Regions from separate parts of the Homo sapiens genome. Here all the other regions are linked to region 2. The links come from fine-mapping of genetic effects on gene expression. A gene starts in region 2. Each other region holds a variant in brackets. All regions are shown on one strand. Distances are from middle to middle.

Region 1 (8,178 bases), 100 kb before region 2:
TTTACCATATTTGTAACTGACTTTTATTCCTTTCTTCATAGTCTTTGTTTCTTTTGTGACTTATACTCTTTTCCTGCCATCTTGGGTTTTAATTAAGCATTTGATGTGACTATTTTCTCTCCTGTCTTAGAATATCAACTATACTTATTTTTTAAAAAAATTACTTAGTGGTTGCACTAGAGGCCACAATATACGCCCACTCTCACATAACCCGCACTGTGTGTGTGGCGCAGATTCCTCGCAACAGCATGCCCAGTTCCTTCTTGCCCCCCAGGGCACTGCTGTCATACATTTCATTCACCCCTGAGCAATCACCACTGAGTAAATGCTATTATCATTCTGAATAAAGTACTCTCTGTTAGACCAATTAAGAACACGAAAAGCAAGCTGGGTGCTGTGCCCTGTAATCCTAGCACTTCAGGAGGCTGAGGCAGTGGATCCCTTGAGCCCAGAAGTTCTAAACCCGTCTGGGCAACATGGTGAGATCACGTCTCTAAAAGAAATAAAAAACAACAAAAAAGCAAAATATTTAATTTTACTACCTTCACTTATTCCTTCTTGCTATGGTTTGAATGTGTCCCCTCCAAAATTCAGGTGTTGCCAATGTGACAACTAGTCACGGTCCCAGGAGGCGGGGCCTTCAAGAGTTCTGATTCCGCCATGCGGGCTCCTCCCTCATGAATGGGATTAGGTGCCTGTATAAAAGGGCTCGGCAGAGGGAGTTTGCCCCTTTGCCCTTTTGCCTTCTGCCACATAAGGACACAGCCTTCCCCCACTCCAGAGGATGCAGTGCTCAAGGAGCCATCTTGGAAGCAGAGATGGGGCCCTCACCAGACACCAAACCTGCCAGTGTCTTGATCTTGGACTTCCCAGACTCTAGAACTGTGGGGAAATCAATGTCTCTTCTCTATAAATTACCCAGTCTGTGGTATTCTGTTGTAACAGCACAAAAACTCACACTTTAGTGCTGTGTTCTTCTTTCCTAAGTAGACCTGAATTTCTGACCTATATAATTTTCCTTCTTTCTGAAGAACTTTTAACATTTCTTGCAAGGGAGGTCTACTGGCAATGAATTCGCTCAATTTTTGTTTGCCTGAAAAAGTCTTTATTTCTCCTTCACGAATGAAGGATAATTTTATGAGATACAGAATTCTGGGTTGCTGGCTTTTTCTTTCAACACTTTAAATATTTTACATTATTCTTTTCTTCCTTAGATGGTTTCTGGAAGAAAGTTTGATATAATTCTTACCCTTGTTTCTCAGCAGGTAAAATGTTCTTTTCCTGTGGCTTCTTTCAAGATTTTTTCTGAGTCTAATTTTCTGCAATTTAAATGTGATATGTCTAGGTGTACCCTTTTTAAAAAATTTATTCTGCTTTTGTATTTATCTCTGAGCTTCCTGGATCGGTAGTTTGGCATCTGCCATTAATTTTGGAAATAGCCACTTTTACTGGAGATATTTCTTCTCTCTTCTTTTGTTTTTTTCATTATGCATATATGGTTTACCTTTTTTTTTTTTTTTTTTTTTGAGATGGAGTTTTCACTCTGGCTGCCCAGGGTGGAGTGCAGTGGTGCTATCTTGGCTCACTGCAACCTCTGCCTCCCAGCTTCAAGGGATTCTTGTGCCTCAGCCTCCCAAGTAGCTGGGATTACAGGCACCTGCCACCACACCTGGCTAATTTTTTTAAAAAAAATTTTTATTTTTTGTATTTTCAGTACAGACGGGGTTTCACCATGTTGGCCAGTCTTGTCTCAAACTCCTGACCTCAGGTGATCTGCCCACCTTAGCCTCCCAAAGCGCCAGGATTACAGGCGTGACCACCGTGCCTGGCCTGCTTCACCTATTGTAGTTGTCCACAGTTCTGTTCTGTTTCTTCACTCTTTTTTCCTCTTTGCTCTTCAGTTTGGAAAGTTTCTATGGACATGTCTCAAGGTCACGGGTCCTTTGCACACCACGTCAGTCTCTGAGCAGCCTGTATTACAAATCCCCGATGTGGCTAGGGCAGGTGTATGATTCTATGGGCATGTCTCAAGGTCACGGGTCCTTTGACACCGCGTCAATCTCCGTACAGTCTGTATTATAAATCCCCAAAGTAGTTAGGACAGGTGTATGAGTTTCTTATGCTGCTATAACAAATTCCACTTTGTGACTTAAAACAATGCAAATTTATTACCTTACTGTTCTGGAGGTCAGAAGTTTGCAATGGGATTCACTGGGTTAAAATTAAAGTATCAGCAGGGCTGGTTCCTTCCTGGAGGCTCCAGGGAGAAACTTTTCTTGCCTTTTCTTGCTTCCTGCAGAGGCTGCCTACATCCTTTGGTCCCCTTCAACCTCTGAAGCCAGTCGTAGCTCGGACAGTCTGTTCTGCCTCCCTCTTCCACTTACAAGTGCCTCTGTGGTTACTTTTGGCCACATGAATAGTTCTATAATCACCTCCCTATTTTAATGTCAGCTGTTTGGCAATCTTGATTCCCTGGCCACAGACAGTGTCATAGTCAGAGGTTCTGGGGATCAGGATGTGGACATCTGTGGGAGGCCATCCTTCTGCCTGCCACACTAGGTTTTCTTCATGGGAATGCAACCAAATTGAGAACCAAAAGGCAAGAGCTCTGGATGGAAAAGTAGCCATACAAACTGAGACAGAGTAGAGAACACATGGCTAGCTCTTCATTTCTTTTGTTTCTCATTCAGAAAAAAAGCAAACAAAAACACCAGATTGCCAATAAAAGTATAGGCACTTTCTTCCTTTACAAAAACCACAATCTTAATTCACAATTTGCTAACCCCACCTCAAGATAATTTAGGTACTCTATCGAAATTCTGGAAATATTTACTCTTTAGCATACTATGAAACACATAGACTTCAGAGTCAGTCCCCATATTCGATCCTGACCCTGCCATTTAAAAACCATGTAAACTTCAGCAAATTATTTAATGATTCTGAGTTCTAGTTTTCTTGTGTATACAACTTGGCAAACATTACACATGTGATCGACCTTTTTAAATATTTGAGAAAGATATATTTTCTCTCAAATGGGCCACAATGAAAAAGTCAGTTACTCTCCATTAGCTTTTAAAAGGATACATTAAAGAAATACCTTAGCTCACCCATGTGAGGCCAGTCTTACTTTCCAGCATCCAAGCCAACAAATTTATTACAATTATACGTTTCCACAAATTTCTATAATACATCACTCAGTAACAAAGTCACATTAATGAAAAAAGAGTCTACTTAAAATTCCACCTTTCATTTACTGAAGTACTTTCAGATGAAAAGTACACGCTGTCCAGGATTCCTTCCAAAGGACCCTTGGAACTACAGTGAAGGTGCAGATGCAACAGGCTGGCCACAAGCTGGGAACTGTGACAGTGGAGACGAGCCACAGAGATTTACAATGCTCCTCTCTATGGTTTTGAAAGTTCCCATGTTACACGAGGAAGTTCTGGTAATATTTATGAGATAAAATATGATCTGCAATCCTTCCAAACATGCAGATCTACTTCCATCAGGCCTGGAAGGCTGTGCAAACTCATGGACTTGCCATAACTTATTTATTTATTTATTTTGAGATGAAGTCTCACTCTGTCGCCCAGGCTGGAGTGCAGTGGCGCCATCTCGGCTCACTGCAACCTCTGCCTCCCAGGTTCAAGCGATTCTCGTGCCTCAGCCTCCCGAGTAGCTGGGATTACAGGCAACCCCCCAAGATGCCCGGCTAATTTTTGTATTTTTAATAGAGACGGGATTTCACCATGTTGCCCAGGCTGATCTTGAACTCCTGACTTCAGGTGATCCACCTGCCTCAGCCTCCCAAAGTGCTGGAATTACAGGCGTGAGCCACCGCACCTGGCAGGGCCTTGCCATATTTGAATGTTACTGTACAGCTTTGGAATTTGAAACCACCTGCATGATTGCTTTATTCTTTTTTTCTTTTCTTTTCTTGAGACAGGGTCTTACTCTGTCTGTCACCCAGGCTGGAGTGCGTTGGCACAATCTCGGCTCACTGCAACCTCTGCCTCCCGGGTTCAAGCGATTTTCCTGCCTCAACCTCCCGAGTAGCTAGAAATACAGGCGCCCGCCACCACACGCAGTTAATTTTTTATTTTTTGGTAGAGACAGGATTTCACCATGTTGGCCAGGCTTGTCTAGAACTCCTGACCTCGTGATCCGCCCGCTTCGGCCTCCCAAAGTTCTGGGATTACAGGTGTGAGCCACTGCGCCTGGCCTCAATTGCTTTATTCTAATCAGGCACTGAGGGCTGCAGCCAAGCCCCATGATGCTGTGTAATCTCTATGTTTCACAGAGTAAGTTATTACTGCTGACCACTACTATTGTCAAAAGGAGGGTTATTAATTCCTGGTGATGTCTAACAAGAAAAGTGAAATCCCAGGGAACTCATTTAAAGGGTCGTGACTGCACTGACACAGCAGTACCATCGGGATACAATCAACTGAAATGAGCATTTTATTCCACACGTTAGAGTGGGAAGGCTGACAATGGTGGACAGTTATCCTTCGCTCATCGTTGTTGAATTGTAAAAATGTAAGTATTTGCCTGGGGACACAATGTAATGTAACACTGGGCCCTTCGACTGTGATACAATCAGTAGACGTCCTCAATCCTAGGAGCTCCTGGCGTGAAAGCCACAGCATAGAACCAAGTGGTTTTCCTCCTACAGGAAATCTGGGAAAACCGAGTGGTGCTTGGCACCTCTCTTCACCTCCAAAGACACCATGTGTTTTGCTGAATGACACGGGACAGTCATTCTTTTCGTTTCTCACTTGTACGACAGACGCCATAGCCAGAGTCCACAGCTGCCCTGGCTCTGATTTTGGCCCTGAGCTGGAACGCCTCACTAGTGTCTGAGCCTCAGGTTTCCGCTGCCTCCTGCCCCTTGGGGTAGCCAGTCTCTGTTTTGTGTTACTTGCCAGCAGTGTGGTGTGCAGACAGGGAAGAGCATGGCCTCACCTGGCCTGCCTCTGGCCTCTGGCTGCGAGACGAACC[C/T]GGGCACTGTCCCCTGCCAGCAGCCCAGGCGCCCGCAGGAGCACCTACAAGCTGTCTGAAGCCTCAACTAGTGTTCACCTGAACACAGCTCCAGCACCACAGGGCCCACCTGACAGTCCTGAAAAAGGCGGGGACGCCGGACACCCATCTGCTTGGGACAAGCAGCCACTCGCATGGAACTGAGGTCACTCTTTTGTTTATGACCGGGAGGCAGGGATGCAAAACACAGAAAATTATGCCAGGATGGTGGATTGCTGATGCCGGAAATTCGTGAGCACCCAGAGGGGCTGTTAAGAAACGTGCCCCTGGATGGGCGCGGCGACTCACGTCTGTAAACCCAGCACTTTGGGAGGCCGAGGCGGGTGAATCACCTGAGGTCAGGAGTACAAGACCAGCCTGGCCAACAATGGCAAAACCCCATCTTTGCTAAAAACATAAAAATTAACTAGGTGTGGTGGTGGGCACCTGTAGTTCCAGCTACTTGGGAGGCTGAGGCAGGAGAATCACTTAAACCCGGGCGGTGGAGGTTGCAGTGAGCCAGGATCGCACCATTGCACTCCAGCCTGGGCACAGAGAGAGACTCTGTCTCAAAAATGAAAAGAAAGGGCCCCTGGCTCTGCGGAAGGAAGTCCAAGCCCAGTGCCAGACTACAGGGGCTCTATCCTCTTCTGTGGCCTCAGGCACATGACTGAGCTCTAAGCCTCAGCTTCCTCATGGATACATTGGTAATAATCAGTATTGGTGGGCTCACAGGGTTGTTTTAGAGATTACATGATATAATAAACATGGAAATCATTTATACAAATAGAAGTCATGAAAACACTGGCTATACCTACGAATTGCAGAGGGAATTTTTTCTCCCCAATTACCAGAAGGATTCAACTTTCTTGAAGGCATGGAGGGACAGTATAGTCTAAGCCAACATTTAATTCTGTAGCCTCCTGTGGGCAAAGCTGGGAACCATGTGAATTCTGTGCCCCAAAGTACAAATCTGGAAAAGGAGGCATGCAGTGATCCATCCCTTTGTGGAGTTCAGGATTCCCCACGTGGGGGGTGCAAGCAGGCCTGGGGGAGCTCTGCACAGCACAGGAAGCAGGGAACGGGGCGTGCTGGGCTGTCATTTCAGGTTTTGACACTGCCCAAAGTCTCTCCCCCAAGAAGGAAACAAACTCTATCATCACCTATCACCAGTAACTGCACTTCCGTCAAACAGATGAGAAGTTAAAAATAACCCGACAGCATTTTCATCCTCTATTACGACTTCTTCCATGACAAAGGCTTTCATCCTTTGATTTCATAAAAGCAAACTTGCTGAGAACAAGCTTCTGTGGCACTTAAAAAGTCTTAACTACTAGCATTTCTTTTTTTTAGGTAGAAATCATTTCCTCCGCCACCCCAGGAAAACATAGATACATTATCACAAATGTATTCTCCAAAATCAGTCGTAAACTTAGGTCTTACAAATTAAACAGCATTTTTTTTTCACACATCCTGAGCTGTTAAATGAAAACAATTATGAGTCATCAATTCCAGGCTCGAGAATTCCACTTTGGTTTACCTGGATCAAGGTTACTGTCAGGCCAGCTACCTGCCTAGATTCCAGACTCCAGCCTTTCTGAGGGCCTTTCCTTCCTGAGTTCCATTAGCAAAAGAGGTATTGCCGGATGTAATTTTCCCTTGAAATTACACAACCTCATCCACTTGAAACTGAGACTAAGCTACTAATCCCACCTCTGTGAAGAGCGAAGATCTCAATGCATGGGCGGATTTGAGAGCCCCCTTCTGTCCTCAGAGGTTGAGATGAAAGGCGGCCAAGTGCTCTCCTGGCCCCGCCACACCCTCCACCTGCACGCAGACGGCGCTCCTGAGAGCCTGTTGACCCCGGTCTGTGCGTTCCTGAGTGAGGGCTTCCTGGTAGGAAGGAGACTTACGGCTTCTCAAAGGTCCTGGAAAGCAGCAATAAGCCCACAAAACCCATCCTGACAACCTGCAGGGCTCCCCGGATCAGAAACTGAAGAGACCTTGAGGGGCTCCAGTTCCACAGGGAGCAGCGGAGAGGAAGGGCCCAGCCGAGGGGGAGAGAGGGTAGCACAGAGCCAGGGAGCAGGGCCAGGCGGAGCGAAGCCACCGAGGCCACTGCCTGCAGTGACGTTCGAAACGGACAGTAGGAAAAGGACAAAACTTGAATGACACAGCAGAGGGGTCAGGAGTGGGAGGCAGAATTCGCCATGCTCTGTCATCTCCTCCAAAGCCGCCATGGGCAATGACAGAAGTGCAGCTTCCCGCCAGCCCCTGCCAGGGGTACCAGGACCCTCCTCCAATGCCTGGATCAAGCTCTGCCGCTGCTGCTGGTTTCTTCCCTGTGACCCCACACAGCACCCTCATCTGCAGGGAGAACCAGGCATGTGGGGCTGTCGGGCGAGCTCCGCCCCAGGAAGGGAGAAGCCAGCTCCCAGGGGGCAGGCTGGGTGATGCCTTCACGGCCCCCATCCGGCTCAAATGAGCCACACTGTGCAGGGGGCGCCGCGGTTCCACACGCCCATCACCCATATCCTGGAATCCTGCCCTACAAGTCCACAATGGCACCGTATGTGGACACCTGGGTGCTTCCTGCCTCTCTGTACCTCTGGGCTGCGCAGGCTGAGTTCTAAGCAGTATGTTTGGGATTTGTTTTGGGCTGGAGGGTGGGGGATGGGTGAAGTACATATAAGCTTGGAAACCATCTTCAGTGAGCTCCGCCTGAGACTGCGTCGACTTTGTAAGTATTACCACTGCAGAGACAATATTTTGGATGTGATTTCTCATCAGTACATTTCTCCTTCCATGAATCATGACTGGGAAACCACCCACAGGACTTATCTGGTTGGGACTTTGTTTTTCAGCATTTACATATCCTGTTTCTAGAGGTTAAAGCTATTAAAATTTTTTGCAATCCTGTAGTTACAAATTAATCCCATAAAAAAGGCTTTGAAAAGGTGACCTTTTCTGTTGTAAAATATTCTTTAAAAATGTGCAACTCTTCAAGAGCACATAAATAATTAAGAACCACAGGGGTCTACATGCCAGGATGCTTGAGTGTGAATTAAGTAAGTCTCCACAGGAGTCTACACATCAGGACACCCGGTGTGGATTAAGGAGGTCTATCGCAGGGGTCTACACATCAGGACACCCGGTGTG
Region 2 (8,178 bases):
AACTGAGTTAAATAAATAAGTCTGTCTTTCAGAAGGGGCAACCTCACAGTTGAACACTGATGTTCACATTATACACCATTCGGTAATAAATAAAAGAAGCAGATATGTATGCATGCATATAAATAGCTGGACTTTCTAGAAGGTTTAACACACTCTAATATAGCACTGCTTCAAGTTCTCGGGAAGCAAAAATGTTTATTTTTCTCTTAGAAAAAAACTTATAACAGTTTGTGTTGAAAGTAATTATCTACTGTCAGCAAGGAAATCCTTCAGATCCTTCAATGTTTTCTATCTTAGAATGTTAAGAAGCAAGAATGGTAAGGTAGAAACAAGCAGAAGCTCTGACAGGCAAAAGAACAAAACTAACAAGGAATATCTGGGCTGAATCATTGAAAGAAGATTATAGGACCATAACAAGACTGAGTTCTTGACCCACAGAACTCTGAAGAAAAATCAAATGCCCTACATAGAGGCATGGAAGGGAAGAGGGAGGGAAGCATCCTGCCCACGCCGGGATGCTCAGCCTTACAGAGATCAAGGGCTGTTTTACCACAGCGTGTAAAGCTTTCTGAATCCTACCTGAGCTCCACACCATGCTCAGTGTCAGGGTGCCCGGTTTACCTCTCCTGTGACCCACGACGCCAGCAGGCCGGGACCCACAGGTAGCTGAGCAGCAGCACTGGCAGCCCATAGGTTTGCTCTCTCCCCAGCCAACCCTACCCAGGGACTCAGCTATGTTAACAGCCAGGCATGACAAACGGACTGAGAGCTTCCCCATTCTTGGCTCTCCACCCAGATTACCTCATTCAACCCTCACAATAGCTATGAAATGAGTACTGCTCTTACCCTCAGAGGAGAAAACTGAGGCAGAAGGAATTAAGCCACTTGCCCAAGGCCACATGGCTAAGAAGGGCAGGGAGGCTCCCACTCAGCATTCAGGCCACTGCCCAGAGAGTATCTAAGAAAAGTATCTAAGCTACCCGCTGAGGCTGCCCTGGTTCCTCTCGGAACTTAAACTACCTGAATCGGTGTTGCTCACCTTACAGCTCTGAAGAGGAAATGGAACTCGCTCTCCATCCATGCTGTTAAAAATACTCTTATTTATTTTGAGACGAGTTTCGCTCTTGTTGCCCAGGCTGGAGTGCAATGGTGCGATCTCAGCTCACTGCAACCTCCGCCTTCTGTGCTCAAGCAATTCTCCTGCCTCAGCCTTCTGAGTAGCTGGGATTACAGGCACCCGCCACCATGCCCGGCTAATTTTTGTATTTTTAGTAGAGACAGGGTTTCACCATGTTGGCCAGGTTGGTCTTGAACTCCTGATGTCAGGCGATCCACCCACCTCGGCCTCCCAAAGTGCTGGGATTACAGGCATGAGCCACCGCGCCTGGCCTAGAAGTGCTTTTAAAGTGTTACGTCATGGAGGTCAAACTACCTCATGGCACATGCACTACCCCATGGCTCATATGCTACCCCATAGCACATACACTACTCCACAACACATACGCCAGTCCACGGCACACACGCTACCCCATGGCTCCCACAGCACATACACCACCCCACGGCACACACACTCTCCACCCCGTCCCCTCTCCCCGTACCCACAGCTCATACATCACCCCAGAGAGCATACACCACCTCACGCCCCCGACAGCACATACATCACCCTAGGGAGCATACACTACCCCACAGCACATACACTACCCCACGGCACACACGCTTTTCCCCACGCCCCCCAGAGCACATACATCACCCCAGGGAGCATACACTACCCCATAAGCACAAGCACTCCTCATGGTATACAAACACGGCACCATTTACAAATACAAAGTATCTCTGCATGGCTCCGGTCCATCCAAACACCCAAACCACCAGTAACACACAGTGTGGAGTACCTGGCTACCCTGGCCTAACCTTCATCTGTTCTCTCACTCATTTGCCTCTGCTATCTCTCCAGGGTTAATCCACAATAAAATGCCTACAGCAATGTTTTCCAAGGACTTCTTTATCTTTTAGCCACCCTCACACATCAGAAGGAGCTGGAAAGCTTTCTTTGTCCCAGGAATTCTGACTATGTGAACACCAAGAAGGAACAGGGTCTATTTATCTATCCTTTTTAATAAAGTAAGTCACATAAGGAAACCATGAGGAAATATGAGTATTCAATCCCAGACTCTTTTTTCTGTAGCAAAAGGAAATATAATTTAGTCCTACATAGTGGACGATAACGCAATTACAAGAAAACAGATCATGACTGTTTCTGGAAAAAGTCAAATTAGTTTAATACCATAGACATGAACTTAAAATGATAGAGATGAATGGCTCTGTGTGTAAATATGGGTGAGGTAGCCAGATGAATACACTGCAAAAAACACAGGTGGAATGAGAAAAACAGAAATAATATTATCCCACAACTCGTATTCCCGAGACGTTATCCAATAATGTATATGCTGGAAAAGTTCACTAAAGAATATTTACCGCTTAGATTAAAAGAAAATGTGATGCCATAAGCGTAATAATACAGCAAAGGGGAATTAAAAATGCAAGCTACGCAAACACTTATATAGATCTATATAACAGAAAACAGCTGAAGGCCTGGAGAAAGGGAGTCAAGCATCAAAATTGGACGTCTGTCTGTCCCCCTCCCAAGATGAAGGGGTCAGAAACCGGCTGGGAAGGGGGGATTCTCCAAAGGGTGAGCCGGGCTGGCCCATCCATCTCTCATTTCTATGGAAAGAGGCTGCACATTAGCCCCACAACGTGACCCTCCTTTTTAACACTGAGTGTTAGAAGGGAACGGAATGAACTGGGAACACCGCGGGCAAAGTGAGTGTTAGTCCCTTCCCTCTTCCATTTCGCTCGAAGGAAACAAAGCAGGAAAATAAGGTGTCTAGGGACCCACACTTCTGAGCGACACAACTGAGAACAGAAGCTTCCGCCCAATAAAGCATTTCTCTTACACTGCAGGTTACCTATAGTCACTGTGATTGGGTCTTCTATAACGTTACCACAGTGAAACACAGGTTTACCACTCACATTAGGATTTGAACTGGGGGCTCGAGCACCAGTGAGGGAGTAACACAAGGCTCCTGGAGCCAAGCCTTTCAAGATCTAGCATCGGAATCATCAGAATCACCAGGGGTGAGTTCTCTCCACTTAAGTAAGTCAGGCTGACCTTCCTAAGGCTTCCCCGAGATCAGGAAACGATGTAAGGTGCACTCAAGTCTCCTTGACTCTCCGAGGTTTTTGGTTAATAAATAAATCCGGGGGAAAGCATTGATCTGGCATCCCCCACTGAAAAGAAACCTATCTATCTTTGGCCAAGGTCTCCTATTTAAAGAAGGCTCATAAATATGAAAGGCTGCCTGAGGTAATTCCTATGCCGGGAAAGAACAAAGTTCCCATAATACTGCCCTCTCTAGTATCAAACCCGGTGCATGCGACTTCTCGAACCTGTGATTGACCAGTGACCGCCAGCCTCTATGGAACAATGAAGCCTCTTGTGCAAGACAGTGGCAGGAAACGCTGTGCTTGGGACAGTTTTCTTCCTCTCCTACACACACACACACACACACACACCCTTTTTTTTTTTTTTTTTTGATACAGAGTCTCGCTCTGTCACCCAGGTTGGAGTGCAGTGGCTCGATCTCGGCTCATTGCAACCACCGCCTCCCGGGTTCAAGCGATTCTCCTGCCTCAGCCTCCTGAGTAGCTGGGATCCCAGGCGCCTACCACCACGCCCGGCTAATTTTCGTATTTTTTAGCAGAGACGGGGTTTCACCATGTCGGTCCGGCTGGTCTCAAACTCCTGACCTCGTGATCCGCCCGCCTCGGCCTCCAAAAGTGCTGGGATTACAGGCGTGAGCCACCGCGCCCGGCCACACACCCCTTTTTACACCTAACGCCAGGGATTCCGGTTTCCCCTCCTCTGGTGTAAAACAAAATCAACTTTTCCCCTTCCGAGTCTTCCCTCCTGAGCTCTTCACTTGCTTATCACTGAAGGGGCAAATTCCAGAGGAACCCAAGAAGACCCCGGACTTCTGATCTAATTGGTTACTTTAAGGTAAAAAATAAAAAGATTCCAAACTCCGCTTCTGAATCCCCCAGGGGTGTTAAAGAACAAACACAATTGCTACCTTTTTCTGCAGAAGTGTAACGCTTCCTCCCAATCCCTTAATCTTACAGACACGGCTGCGCGGAAGCCGCATCTGAAGGTTCCTCCCCAGACCCGGGCCCCGGCGGGGTCGAAGTTGGCTCCCTCCGGGCGCCCGGTCCGCCGGGACAGCTCGAACCCCAGCCAGCCTCTCCGAGGGACCCCCAGGGCGCTGCGGGCGGGAAGGGGGCGCCAGGCGGCCGCGGCCAGGGAGCAGGTGGCCGCCCGGGGCTGGGGCCCCGCGCTGTGCCCACCTAGACCCCGTCGGAAGCCCCAGGGTGTCAACTCCGAGGCCCCTCCCCAGCATCCCGCTCGTCCCCGGGGGCGGTCCGAGTCCCAGACATCGGAGACCTCCCGGGACCCCGGGGCTGGACCGGCCACAGGGTCCGGGCTGCGGGGCCGGCCCGCGTCTGTCTGGTCCCCGGGTCCCCCAGCCCGCGCCGGGAGCACTCACGTATCTGTGCACGAGCGTCCGCACGAGGCTGCAGTCCATGGCTCCTCCGGCCGCTCCCGCTCCGCCGTTCAGCGCCCCCGCGCCCGGCTCGGCGCGCCCATGGGCTCCGGGGTACTAGTGCGGCCGCGCCCCCCGCTCCGGTCACGGCCTCGGCGCGCCGGGCGGTGCAGGGGGCGGCCGCGGCCCCTCCGCGCTCATGCCCGGCCCGGCCGGCGAATGCTGGGTCCGCGGCCCCGCGCGTCGGCAGCTGCTCCACTGGCGGCAAGGCTGCTGCTCGGGGCCGCGCGCGCGCGCTCTGGCGCCTTCTCTCTCCCCGTCGGTCCGCCCGCTCGGTTGGGCTCGGCTGGAGCACCCCGGCCGCGGCGGAGCCTGCGCTCTGCTCCTCCCGAGTCTCCTCCTCCCCTGCCCGCCGCCCTCTGGAGCCTCCGGGCCCCGCTGGCTCCTGCCCCTGCTCCGGGCGCGCACGTCACCGGCGCAAGTGAGCATGCGCCCCGCGGCCGCAGCCCCCGCCGGCCCCGCGCCCACACCCGCGCTCGCACCCGCGCGCCGGCCCTGCCCCCTCGCGCCTCCGCCCGGGCCCCAGACCCTGGGGGCAGAGGGCAGAGGGCAGAGGTCAGAGGCCGCGGGGAGGAACCCCCCTGTTGCTTCCGCCTCCCGGGGCGCAGGCGCTGGGCGCGGCGGGGAAGGGACTCGGCACTGGGGAAACCCGGAGTTTCAGCCAGGGTCCCAGGGCTTCCTTCCCGGGTTCCTGCCGGAAAACTTTTCTCCTCCGCCCGGAAGCCTCGATGGGGCAGTGAGATCGCGGGGCGAGGTGGGAGTGTGGGAGGGGGCCGCGGGCAGAGAGCGGGAGTCCGGCTGGGTGGGAGATCTCCTGAGCCGAAGCTGGGTCTCGCCCCAGCGTGGCGCCACCGACCCGCAGGCTTTTCCTGCTCTGCAGATGGAGAGACACAGGGACGCTCCTCAGGTGGCTGCCCTGGGCTGCCAGCCTGTCAGTGGGAGGGGAGGGTGCAGACAAGAGGCCCCTGTTTCCGAAACCCCTCTGTCCCCAAAGCTGCGACAGCAGAAGACACTTAGGCGGCCTGAGGGGTTGGTGAACCACAGAGGAGCTCAGCTTCGCCTGGTCTCCAGCTCCCGGTGGCGGTGGCGTGTCCTTAATGCTGCTGGCTTTGAACTGGACTGAGAACTATTTACCACACAAACACCACCATTTCAATCCCGGAGAATGCCTGTTTTCCCTAGGGTGACCTGGCCGGGGTAACAAACACTTGTTCTCTAATTCCACGGTCAGCCTTGACTTAATTGAGGTACTTGATTTCCAACTTCCTGTCTTGCTGCCACAGATAATCACTGATGAAACCAAACAGGCAACACCTTTTGGTGGCCTGTGGAGAGCGCTGCCCCGTCTGGGTCTTAGGAAGGCAATTGAATATGAATGTTCTCCCGAGTGCTTGTGGAAAAGAGATGGTGTTGGCCACTTTTTAGACGAAGAGAAATGAGTACTAGTGAACACTAATCATAGTGACTAAACAGTAAACGGCTCCCATTTGTTGTCGGCTAAAGCACTGATTCTTCATTTTCCATCCCAGCCTGTCCTGCTCTGGCCTGCCCTGTGCTCAGGAAGCTGGCGGTCCCCCTCAGTGGATCTTCACCCACAGGGACAACCTGCTGCAGACCGGGTAGGAGGGAGGCAGGGGCCTCTTCCCCTCTCCTTCCTGGCCTGGCCCCACACCCACCAGTGTTGGTTTCACTCTGTGGCTACGATTCTTCCTGGGTGCCCTTTCCATTGCACAACTCCTCTAGGCTCTACGAACAGAACTTCTCCCCGCCCCCAAGCCTCTTAGGGTGAGACATGTTGTCGGTCTGCCATTGTTGCTGGTCCCTAAATAGCAGCACCCTTTGAAGGATCCTTGAACCATGACCACACCGCAACAAAGAGTCCTTCATCAAACTCGCTTCCAAATCCCCTCCCAAGAACACCTTCAGTTTCCTGCAAGAACCCTGACTGCTGAAGCCGGATTTTGACTAAGCTTCTACCTTGTAAACCGTGACTGTGGGATTGGGGTCGAGGCGCAATCAGAGGTTGTATAAGGCACTAGATCAAGGCTGCCTGTCTGTCAGGAGTGTCTGCTTTATTCAGTAGTAAATGTGAATTGTTTTTCATTCTGTTGTGAATACTGTTGGTTGACAATGCAGCAGCCATGCCCTCTCTATCCTTGCTGGTTCAGGTATCCACTCTGTGTGGCTAAGGGTAAACTCTGTCTCTTGAGAAAATCTTGGTAACTCCATTTCTCTTTCCAACAATTGGCTTCAAACAAGCTCAAGTCAATGAGTCCCAACAGGAAGCCTGCTGGGGGTTGTCTGGCAAAGGTTTTCTCACTCCTACAGGAACATAAAGAGGAAATGCTCCTTTTTCCCTGGTGAATGTTGCATTCCCTGTCTGGATGCAATGCCTGGTGCTCCGCAGCCCTTTGCACTTATAAGAGAAGGTGGCCGGAAGAGCATCTTCACCCTGGGGTGGCCGCCTGGGAAGATGAGAAGAGCAGGAGTCCTTGGTGGCACAACCAGGCAATTCACCAAAATCCTGCTGCCCTCACCTGGAATTTCCTGCTATGAGAGACGTCTCCGTTTAAACCACATGAGCTGGATTTTCTGTTTCTAACACATGTCAGCATCTTCACGGTAAATCTAAGAAAAAAAAATCAGGGCTATTAAAAAACAAAGTCCAACTCACCCTGTGCTATGGTCTGAAGGTGTCCTCCCAAATTCACACGTGGAAACCTAATCCCAAATACCTGATACCTAATCCCAAATATTAAGAGGTGGGGGCCTTGGGAGGTGGTTAGGAATGGGATTAGTGCCCTTTAAAACTGAGGTTTTTGGGAGCCTGCTTGCCCTTTCTGCCATATGAAGATGCTTAGAAGAGGCCTTCTATGAAGCAGAGAACTTTTCTCAGATGCCAGATCTGCTGGGACCTTGATCTTGGATTTCTCAGCCTTCAGAACTGTGGGAAGCAAACTTCTGTGTGTATGAATAGCCATCTAAAGGATTTTGTTACAGCAGCCTGAGCAGACTAAGACACCCTGTGAGTCAGTTATTTTTGGCTGTGTCACGAGTGACCGCGAGTGCAGGAGCTGAAACGGCAGTGAGTGGGTTACCATTTCTCAGGACCCTGCGGAATTGGTGCGATGGTGCTTCTGCTCCACCTGTTGTTGGCTGGGATTGTCCTGCAGCTGCATTCTTCTGGGGGTCAGCTGGGGCTGGAAGCTTCCTGTGGTCTAGTCACACAGCTGGGGTCTCAGCTAGGGTGATAGAACACTGGGGGCAGGCCGGCCTTGCTGTCTCTCTCTGGCTTCTCATCATTCAGTGGTCTAGCCTGAGTTTTTTACATGGCAGCTCAGGAGGGTCAATGTGGACGCTATACAGCCTGTAAGGCCCGGGTTTGGAAGTCCAAGAATATGACTTCTACCATGTTCTACTGGTGAATATAAATTCCAAGGCCAGCCTAGATTCAAGGGATAAGAACGTAGATTTCACTCCTTGATGGGAGGATCCCATGTACAGACAGGGATCCTTA
Region 3 (8,178 bases), 190 kb before region 2:
AGCAGGCCCACTGTGCGTGTCTGAGACGGTCTGTGGCAGGGACTGGGTGTGAATCATGCAGCAGGCCCACTGTGCGTGTCTGAGACGGTCTGTGGCAGGGACTGGGTGTGAATCAGTGACCGTGTCTCTGACCAACATGCTGAATTACAAATTGATAATTTATTAACCTGTGCAGCAACAAATAAGATTTTTCAAAACTCAACAAAGTGCTCAAAGTTGACATTACTTGCTTCAAAGTTAGTTTAAGGCAAGTAAATACTAACTACTGCGAGGTGGAAAATTGCATGAAGACCCTGCAACGTCATTCACTGAGGATCTTCTCATCCTTTTCTTTTTTATCTCGTGCCCCTTGTCTATTTCAAATCATCAGGCACATTCATTTAATAATTTCCCAAGCAATTTTTAAAAAGACGTTTGGGAGTGTGTAAAAGTTTAGTGACTTTCACACTAAAACTTGTTGTCAGAGGTACATGGTGACTATCTCCACACAGGCAGAGCTGGGACCCAACTTACTAAACCTTCACGTGAGAATCTTCTATTTTTAAGGCTGAAGGATGGCAATTAACAATGAAACATAGAAAGCAGATGAAATTGCAACAAATTGTAAAGAAAAAGTGTAGCAAATTATCGTGCCTTAAATGTGCTGTTCAACTAATCACTGCCACCAGAAATACCAAGAAAAGAAGAGGTGTGTGTAGAGAATAAAATCAAATCTGAAAATTCGCATTCATCAGAGATTGGAACATTCAGTCAAAACTCTCACCAGAATCTAAATGTAAAGTGGCCAAAATTTCATAAACTTAAAAATGAAAGCTTTAAAAACCTATTTTTAAAATTAGACAGTATGTTAAATAAATGAATAAAAGAGATATAAACAGCTATGAAAATACTTCAGTGCAAAGGCAATTTTAAGATTTCTAAAAAAATACATTACAAATAATTTGTTAACTGAACATACAGAGAATCTGCCCCCGCTACAGGTGTTACATTTATGCCCATATTGGGTTCCTAAAAAGGGCTGTAAAAACGCACACACCATTGTTTGCGGGGGCAGCGTGGGCAGGGCTGCCAAGCCAGGGCGGCCACACAAGGACCTCAGGGCAGGGTGGCCCTGGGGACGCCTGCGGCTGGCCCCTCGGGACAGAGTGGAGTCTTCCCCGTTCTGTCTGCTCAAGCCAGTTGCTCGCTACCCTCATCTTTGGTGTGATGTTTGTCACCTTATTTTATCCCAACCACTGTGTTCACTGTTCTTACCGCTGATTTACCCTCTACTTCAAATAAATATTTTATAGGTAAAAGATTATACAATCAAATGGTGAAATCTGAGCTTCCAAAAATACCTACTGTCGAGCACCTCGGAAACACCCTCTGGGTTTCACTTGCCGGAGCCCCGTTCCACAGCGTGGCGCGGGGCGGGCGTGAGGGCCGGCTCCTCCTCCAGCGTTGGTGGTGCTTTCCTGAAAGGCAGCAGTTTCAGCGTCTGAAGTCTGAATCTCACACTGAAATGTCTTCTTTAAGGACCATTAAGGCTATGTCAAATATTATTTCTAGAAATAGAAATGCCAGTACGGAGAACAACAGGGACTTCCTATCACAGCAGCCCTGGGGTTGCTAACCCACCCAGAGCAGCGCTGGACAGATCCTAAGACGAAGGAGAGCCCTGCGTGGGGACATGGGGACGAGGGTATGTGGGGACGGGACAAGGGGACGAGAGGACGTGGGGATGAGGAGACGAGGGGACGTGGGGACGAGGTGACAGGACAAGGGGACATGAGGACGAGGTGACGGGGCAAGGGGATGTGGGGACGAGGTGACGGGATGAGGGGACGTGGGGATGGGACGAGGGGACGTGGGGACGCAGAGCCCGGCGGGCGGAGCTGCAGTGCGGGAGGCGGGCAGAGGTGCGGTGCTGCCTGTTGGGATCCACCCGTGTCCTGTGTGCCACCCCCGTCAGCCCGAGACAGGTTCTGGTGCACGAACACCACCTTGGTGTTGACCCCTCCACGGGGACAGAGGATGTCTGCTCATCACAGCCAAGTATCTGTCTCCCGGCCCTCGCACCCGCGAAATCAACATTCTCCCGTAACAGTGGACTGACGGCTCCGTGCCCTGGCGAGTGGCTGATGGACATCCTGGCACTTCTGCGGCAGGGCTGGAAGCTGCCGGCGTGGCCTTGTCCTCCCACGTGGCACTGCCTTCTCCACGAGGCGGCCGGTGATGGGGAGACCGAAACTCAGCCAGCCCCAACACACAGGGCAGGCGGGCTTGGACGTAACCGCAGGGAAACCACTCCCAGATGAGCAGGGTACGGCGGTGCATCCGCAGGGATGATGGTATCCGAGTGACCCGGCCCTTCCCACAGCATCCGGATTGGAGGGTTGTTGAGTAAAGGACGCACCACCATGGCTCCACCTCACCCTATGGAGGGCATGGGTGGTGGCCGGGCAAGCAGGAAACAGCAGCATGTGGCATCCACATGTGGGCCACCATGGGTCCCTGGACGGCTCTTCTCTCCCAGTGACAGCAAAGGCCAATGATGGCAGGTGGGTGAAGACACAGGCCTGGGGGAATGGCCTCTGCATGACAGCGCGCAGGGTGGGCCAGCAGAATGTCCCTCCTGCGTTGAGCCGAATGCCCAGAGGCCACTGGTGTGGCTCAACAACCACAGTGCTGGGTCCAGGCGGCCAGGGTGCCATGCTCGAGGGCAAGGCCTGTGACCCCCCTCCTTGCCTGCTGGGGGCCAGGAAGAGGCACGTGCACAGTCTCCACAGGCTTAGGACCATCCATCACACGAGCATTCCCACACGGGACCTAGGGCAGCTGTGACTTGGGATGGAACTGCAGTGGTGATGGGAACCGCCGAGGATGGGTGGGGGCTCCGTGGACACCTTCTCCTTCCAGGCCGCGAGTGTCACCTGCTGAGAGTGGGAGCTGTACCAGGCGGCCGAGGGACAGGTGCTCTGGTAGCCTGGGCTCTGCAGAGAGGCAAGAGGGGTGAATTCTGAGTCGCGGTCCCGAGGCTGTGCGCACCCATTCTGCTGAGAGAACGAGACACATGGTCAGTCTCAGGGATACCCACGGGGCTGCCTGGGGTGACCTGAGCCACTCTGGGATGCACTCACTACCATCGCCTCCTGCAGGAACTGCTAGACTCAACTCAGGACACACCCTCGTCCTGAGGGCAGGCCGGGCGGGATCCACCCCACCAGAGAAGCCATATGGAGGCGAGGGGTCTCTGTCTAGGAATGAGGGCCTCTCCTTTTCAGTACCAACAGAGTGACCGTCCCCCTGTCCCACCATCCCAGGGAAGAACCCAGGGGCCCCAGGGATACAGGCCATGGACGGGAAACCTACGAGCTTCCTCCCTGTAGCTGGCTTCCTGTGCAGTGAGCTCGAACGCCATACCGGTACCCAGAGACCCTT[G/A]AACAAAAGGCGAACTCACTGCCCCAGGGAAGGCAGGCCCCACCCCACAGGGACCGGGTTGATTTAGTACTGGACGTGCCCAGCTTGCATCCCCTTGACATGTTGCCTAGGATGTCACCATACGGATGGGGCCTGCATGGCTTCTGACAGCCCACTGGGGCCCCGGATGTGCACGGGCCCTGTGGGTCTGACCAGCAAGGGGAGCGGCAGGAGGCCGGCAGCACGCATCTGTCTGATGAGGGGCCGTCCCCAGGTCAGCCCACTTTTAGACCAGGGGGCAGCGGCGGATGCTGGCAGGAGCAGATGTCTTCATGGCCTCCATGTCTGTTGGAGAGGCGACAAGCTATGTGCTCCGGCTGGCACACAGAAGACCTGCACTCACACCTGCCTGGGCCCCAGTTCCACACAAACCATGCAATAACCACGTTTGATTTCAAAGCACGGTCCTTCCTGATGGGCCTTTTAAGTGAAGCTGTGTCCCCCGAAAGACCAGGATCGTGAGCCTGTGTCTGACGATGCTGGGTCTGGTCAGGCTGTGTGCCGTGCGTGTGGGGTGAGTGTGCACACGTGTGTGTGCACAGCATGTTCCATGTGTGGTCAGCTTGCCCTCAGGCGTGTTACTTACCTGGGACAGCAAATGCATGTGTGTGTAAAGAGGGCTGCTCTTTCTCACCGTGAACCTTTGTTATCAAAGACAGCACAGCACAGCACAACTTTGGAGGAAAAACGGGTCTGACAGTCACAGCACACGGGCGGCGTCCAGCAGCCGCACAGTTACCTAGCGTGGAGCTAACTGCGCCTTGGCCGCCGTAGGAGGTCCTTCAGGAGGGGCCCATCGCTGCTCTGTGCGGCCTGGACTGGAGCCTTGTGCTTCACACCCCTCTGCAAGGCGAGGAAAGATACTGAGCGACGTGGGCCACACGGGGCCACCAGGAGTGCTCGGGCCTCTGCCTGCACCATCCGTGGGACCCCAGCAGGAAGAGGCTCGAAGCCCCTGTTGGAGTCTGCATGGGGTGTCATGGAGCTGCCAGGGCGAGGGCTTGGGGCGTCTTGGGAAAACACTGTCCCAGCAGGGCCGCTCCCATGAGGGGCCCGAGCCCAGAACTGAGACAGCGACAGGCTCAGGGACGGGCCATGCACCCGCGGGAGGCAGAGGGTCTGAGGTCCCTCGGCTGGAAGGTCTACCAGGCACCGCTGGAATCCTGAAGCCACACGTTCAGCCACACGCCCACTTCCACGGCAGACAGCGAGCTCCAGTAACCGCTCTACCAGGGCCCTGCGACGGACTTTCCTGAGTCCAGCGTGCTCACAGAACTCCACTGAGATCTTGTAGCCCAGCCTTATTCAAGGAATAAGGGAAGCACAGGAGCTGAAGAACTGCGGGCTTGGAATTGCACAATTGCACGTCTGAATGGGCAAACGCCCAGGTGAGGAGAAGTAGGAAACAGAGGATGAGGCTGCCACCCTTCCTGGGGACAGTGACGGAGAAGTGAACTGCATGCAGATACGCAGAGATGCCAGCACGGGCATATATGTGCAAATCGCACATATATAACATATACATCTGAGGCCTGTGATGCTTTTCTTTTCCGTAGGAACAGGTTAAAAGAAAGCCATCCACTGGAAGTAACATATGCCCCACGTGAGGACTAGTGACACGTTTATTCCTCCAAAGTTTTGCAGAACGCAGGTGGTCTCGGCGCCACGGCGTGTTCCCGTGTGCGCCGGGCATGTGCTGGCTGCAGGCGCTTTCTGTTCAAGTGTGGACGCCGGCCCTGTCTGTGGGGGTCATGCCGGGGCCCAAGGCCTCGCAGGGGGCAGGAGAAACTCCGTGCCACTGTCTCTACGCAGCCGGGCTCAGCTTCCGTACATGCTCAGAAGCAAATCAGCTCTCAACAAACTACATGAATCGTTAGAATGCTTATTTTTAGCTCAGAGTTGGCATGATTTAATCAGTTTCTTAAGGACCTCTTATGAGTCATTAAAATGTTCCTAATAATTTCATCCTAAATGTCTTCAAGTACAGAAATGGTGAGATGAAATTCTGCAATTTAATCTAACAAATTCTGATGACACTAAATTAGAAAACTGTTGATTCTGATTAATTGCTTGGACTTAAAAAAGGACCATTTTGTCAGTTAAAAATCCTGTTTAAAATATATAGAAGATGATGTTATTAAAGGGAAAAGAAGCCTTTTTCTGCTTTGGGCATTTTTCTAAGCTGCATTTGGTAAAACAGTAATACCAAGTATGCATTTTCAAAGCATCACTGATTTGGAGGCATGCGTGAAGGCGGTATTTGGTGCAGGAGCACACGGCTAAAAGACAGAACGCGACTTCAGGACGGCGTGCAGGCCCCTGCAATCTCGGCTCTTATCATGGACACCACCGCAGAAAAATGGCGTGTGAACGCCTCTACATTGCCCAGAAAGGCCAAGGTCGTCATTTTTAAAGCAAATTATTAATAGAAGGCTTTTTTGAAAAACAATGAGGTTTTCATTTAAAAAACAGTAAAAAGGGAATTTGGTCAAACATTTGACACCAAACACTTCCGTCCCCTCTTTGTCTCCAGTTGTGTGGCTCAGCCTGGCTCCCCTTTTCTGAAATGTGCATGGGTCCTGAGCAAACCGTGTTATCCTAGCTGCCCTCAGTCTTTCCAGCTGCAGAATGGGCACAGAAGTGGGTGCGTGAGGGAGGAGGCCTTGTGATCCACGCTCTACAGGCTGCAGAGGGAAGGGTGTGTGAGCTCAGAGCCTGGATGACCTGTGAATTGCAAACTCTCACACCTTCCTGCTTAGGAACCCCTCTGACACCTGTGTGAGGGGTCATGTGGCCAGCTCTCCGCTGTCAGCTGTGTCTGAACCCTCACACAGGTGGGTTCTGAGGCTGCACGGACGCTGAGGGAGAAACCCTGGTTAACTGTGACTGATGGAAAGCACAGCCCATGATCAGTCTGTGCATGAGAAGGTGTAAGTGGTGGCGGGACTTCCCGACGTGAGGCTGCTGTACCCAGCGCCTGGTGGACGCTGCGTCAGAGCACGTGGACTCAGGGCTCTGGTGATGGGCATGGCCCTGCTGCCCCGTGTCTACCATCCCAGGTGCGTGGAAGGCAGAGGAGCATCACCTTGTTCCATCAGAAACTCAGGCTGCTGGAAGTCTGAGAAAGCATAAAGATGGTTGACTGCTCGACAGAAAGGCACTGGCTCTTAGTCTTAGTCCCGAGGTCAGCGGCCACGCACACAGGGGTGTGTGAACAAGGTGTGAGGATTTAGGCAAAGCGGTCGGAAGACGGAAGGAAATGGGAAGGAAAGAGAAACAAGAGACAGAGCTGAGTTAGTCAGAGGCTCGCCACCACGTGCAAGTTCTTCTGGTCACTCTGGGCGGACACTGGTGCCCCCCACCGTGACCCGCCAGCCCCTCCCACCCCCTGCTTTATGCCTTCTGCAGGTCCCGCTGTGTAGCTGTTCATAAGCATTCCCGGGGCTCTTGTGGGACGCAGAGACCCACAGCAATACAGGGGCTTCTAAACAAAGGGTGGGACGGGGAGGGTCCTCACTGGCATTCCCAAAGTGCCCACCCATCCTGGAGATGAGTTGCAGAGCAGAGGGCCTGTGGTCAGACACATCCGGGGGCGTGGCCCTCGGCAGCCCCGACTCTGGAGGCTGCGTGCACAGTGCATGGAAGAGCCCAGACTCCTGCGGGGAGAGGCCCTCCTAACCCCCCGAGTTCAACTCCTGCCTGCTCAGGCATCTTTGACCAAGCACCTCTGCAGCCACATGCACCCAGGGGCCAGGTGGGGCTGAGACTCGTGCAAACCCCAAGCCACACCACTGTGGCCACAGCTAGGGGCCCAGCAGACACCCCCAAGCTGCACCTGCTCTCTCTCGGGGTCAGACCCCCAGCCCTGCTGTCTCTTCTGTGCCTGATGTCCTTGTTACATGTGTGTCTGCCACGTCCCCATGTATGGGATGTGGTTATGAACACGTGTCCCATGCACAGAGCCCTGTCATGAACACGTGTGCCCGCTGTGGAACTGCACAGCTAAAGAGCTCAGTAACCAAGGACCGTGCTTAGAGAAAACCACCACTGGACAGCTGCTTCTCGGGCCACAGGCAGGGCTGGGCAGTGAGTGGCTGCTTGGGGCCGGTGAGTTTCCCCTGAAGCACTGGGGGCCGCGGAGTCTCAGCCAGGGCCCCGGCTCCTGCTCCCACTGTCTCCCCTCCTGCACAGAGGCCCCTCAGTGGGACCTTCTTATAAGCAGCCAACTGGCACGTTCTGCTGCGTTTCTCCTGCCTGTGGCCCCCGAGTCAGTGGAGCTGTGTGTGGACATTTTCACTACATTGAGAGGCAGTCTCTTCACCACGAGTTTTGCTCGCTCTGATTTTACAAACTGTGGCAGGAGGCATGAAGGAGGGAGTGCCGGGAACTGGTGGCATCGGTTTCAACATTTCAAATCGGCACCAATGTCCCAAGAAAGCTCTCAAGCCAGGGTCCCATTCTGATTGTTGGAGGTGGGTGGTGGGTGAGGCTGTGCCCCCCAAGGGAGGGCAACCTGTCTTCCCTCCCAGCACAGCAGCACCGCTGGGAGCCAGCCCCCGGGTGTCTGAGCTACGTGAGTGAGTCAGGGCTGGGGCCCCGGCCCCCACTCACTCCCCGTCTTCCTCCCACCTGGGGAGCCTCACACCCTGCAGGAGCAGCCACTGCCAGGGGCCCCCACCCCTCATTTCCCCATTGGGCTTCAGCACTGCCCAGTCC

The links. PIP is the estimated chance that this variant, and not a neighbour inherited with it, causes the effect.
Region 1: its variant is the best candidate, but not a certain one, in a credible set for the expression of ATP11A in whole blood (TOPMed, PIP 0.64).
Region 3: its variant is the best candidate, but not a certain one, in a credible set for the expression of ATP11A in whole blood (TOPMed, PIP 0.88).

Annotation. Positions count from the first base shown.
Region 1 is chr13:112,790,633-112,798,810 of GRCh38, reverse strand. All of the region lies in intron 2 of ATP11A (ATPase phospholipid transporting 11A), which reads right to left. LOC124903252 (a long non-coding RNA gene) reads right to left here. Exons shown (of 2, transcript XR_007063947.1): 2 at 3,124-8,178. Among named protein-coding and RNA genes, the nearest start is that of ATP11A-AS1, 40 kb to the right of the region's middle. RefSeq lists an enhancer at 8,010-8,178. The variant C/T (reference allele first, on the strand shown) is at 5,002.
Region 2 is chr13:112,686,882-112,695,059 of GRCh38, reverse strand. It overlaps ATP11A (ATPase phospholipid transporting 11A), which reads right to left and starts at 5,022. Exons shown (of 30, transcript NM_015205.3): 1 at 4,605-5,022. The coding sequence starts at 4,643. LOC102725228 (a long non-coding RNA gene) reads left to right here and starts at 5,245. Exons shown (of 2, transcript NR_187633.1): 1 at 5,245-5,397; 2 at 6,191-8,178. RefSeq lists enhancers at 2,868-3,369, 5,668-6,185 and silencers at 4,230-4,469, 4,490-5,419.
Region 3 is chr13:112,876,673-112,884,850 of GRCh38, reverse strand. ATP11A (ATPase phospholipid transporting 11A) reads right to left here. Exons shown (of 30, transcript NM_015205.3): 29 at 6,548-6,634; 30 at 1-2,975. The coding sequence ends at 6,557. Among named protein-coding and RNA genes, the nearest start is that of MCF2L-AS1, 88 kb to the left of the region's middle. RefSeq lists cis regulatory regions at 1,717, 3,033, 4,258, 5,514 and enhancers at 1,645-1,789, 2,961-3,105, 4,186-4,330, 5,442-5,586. The variant G/A (reference allele first, on the strand shown) is at 3,424.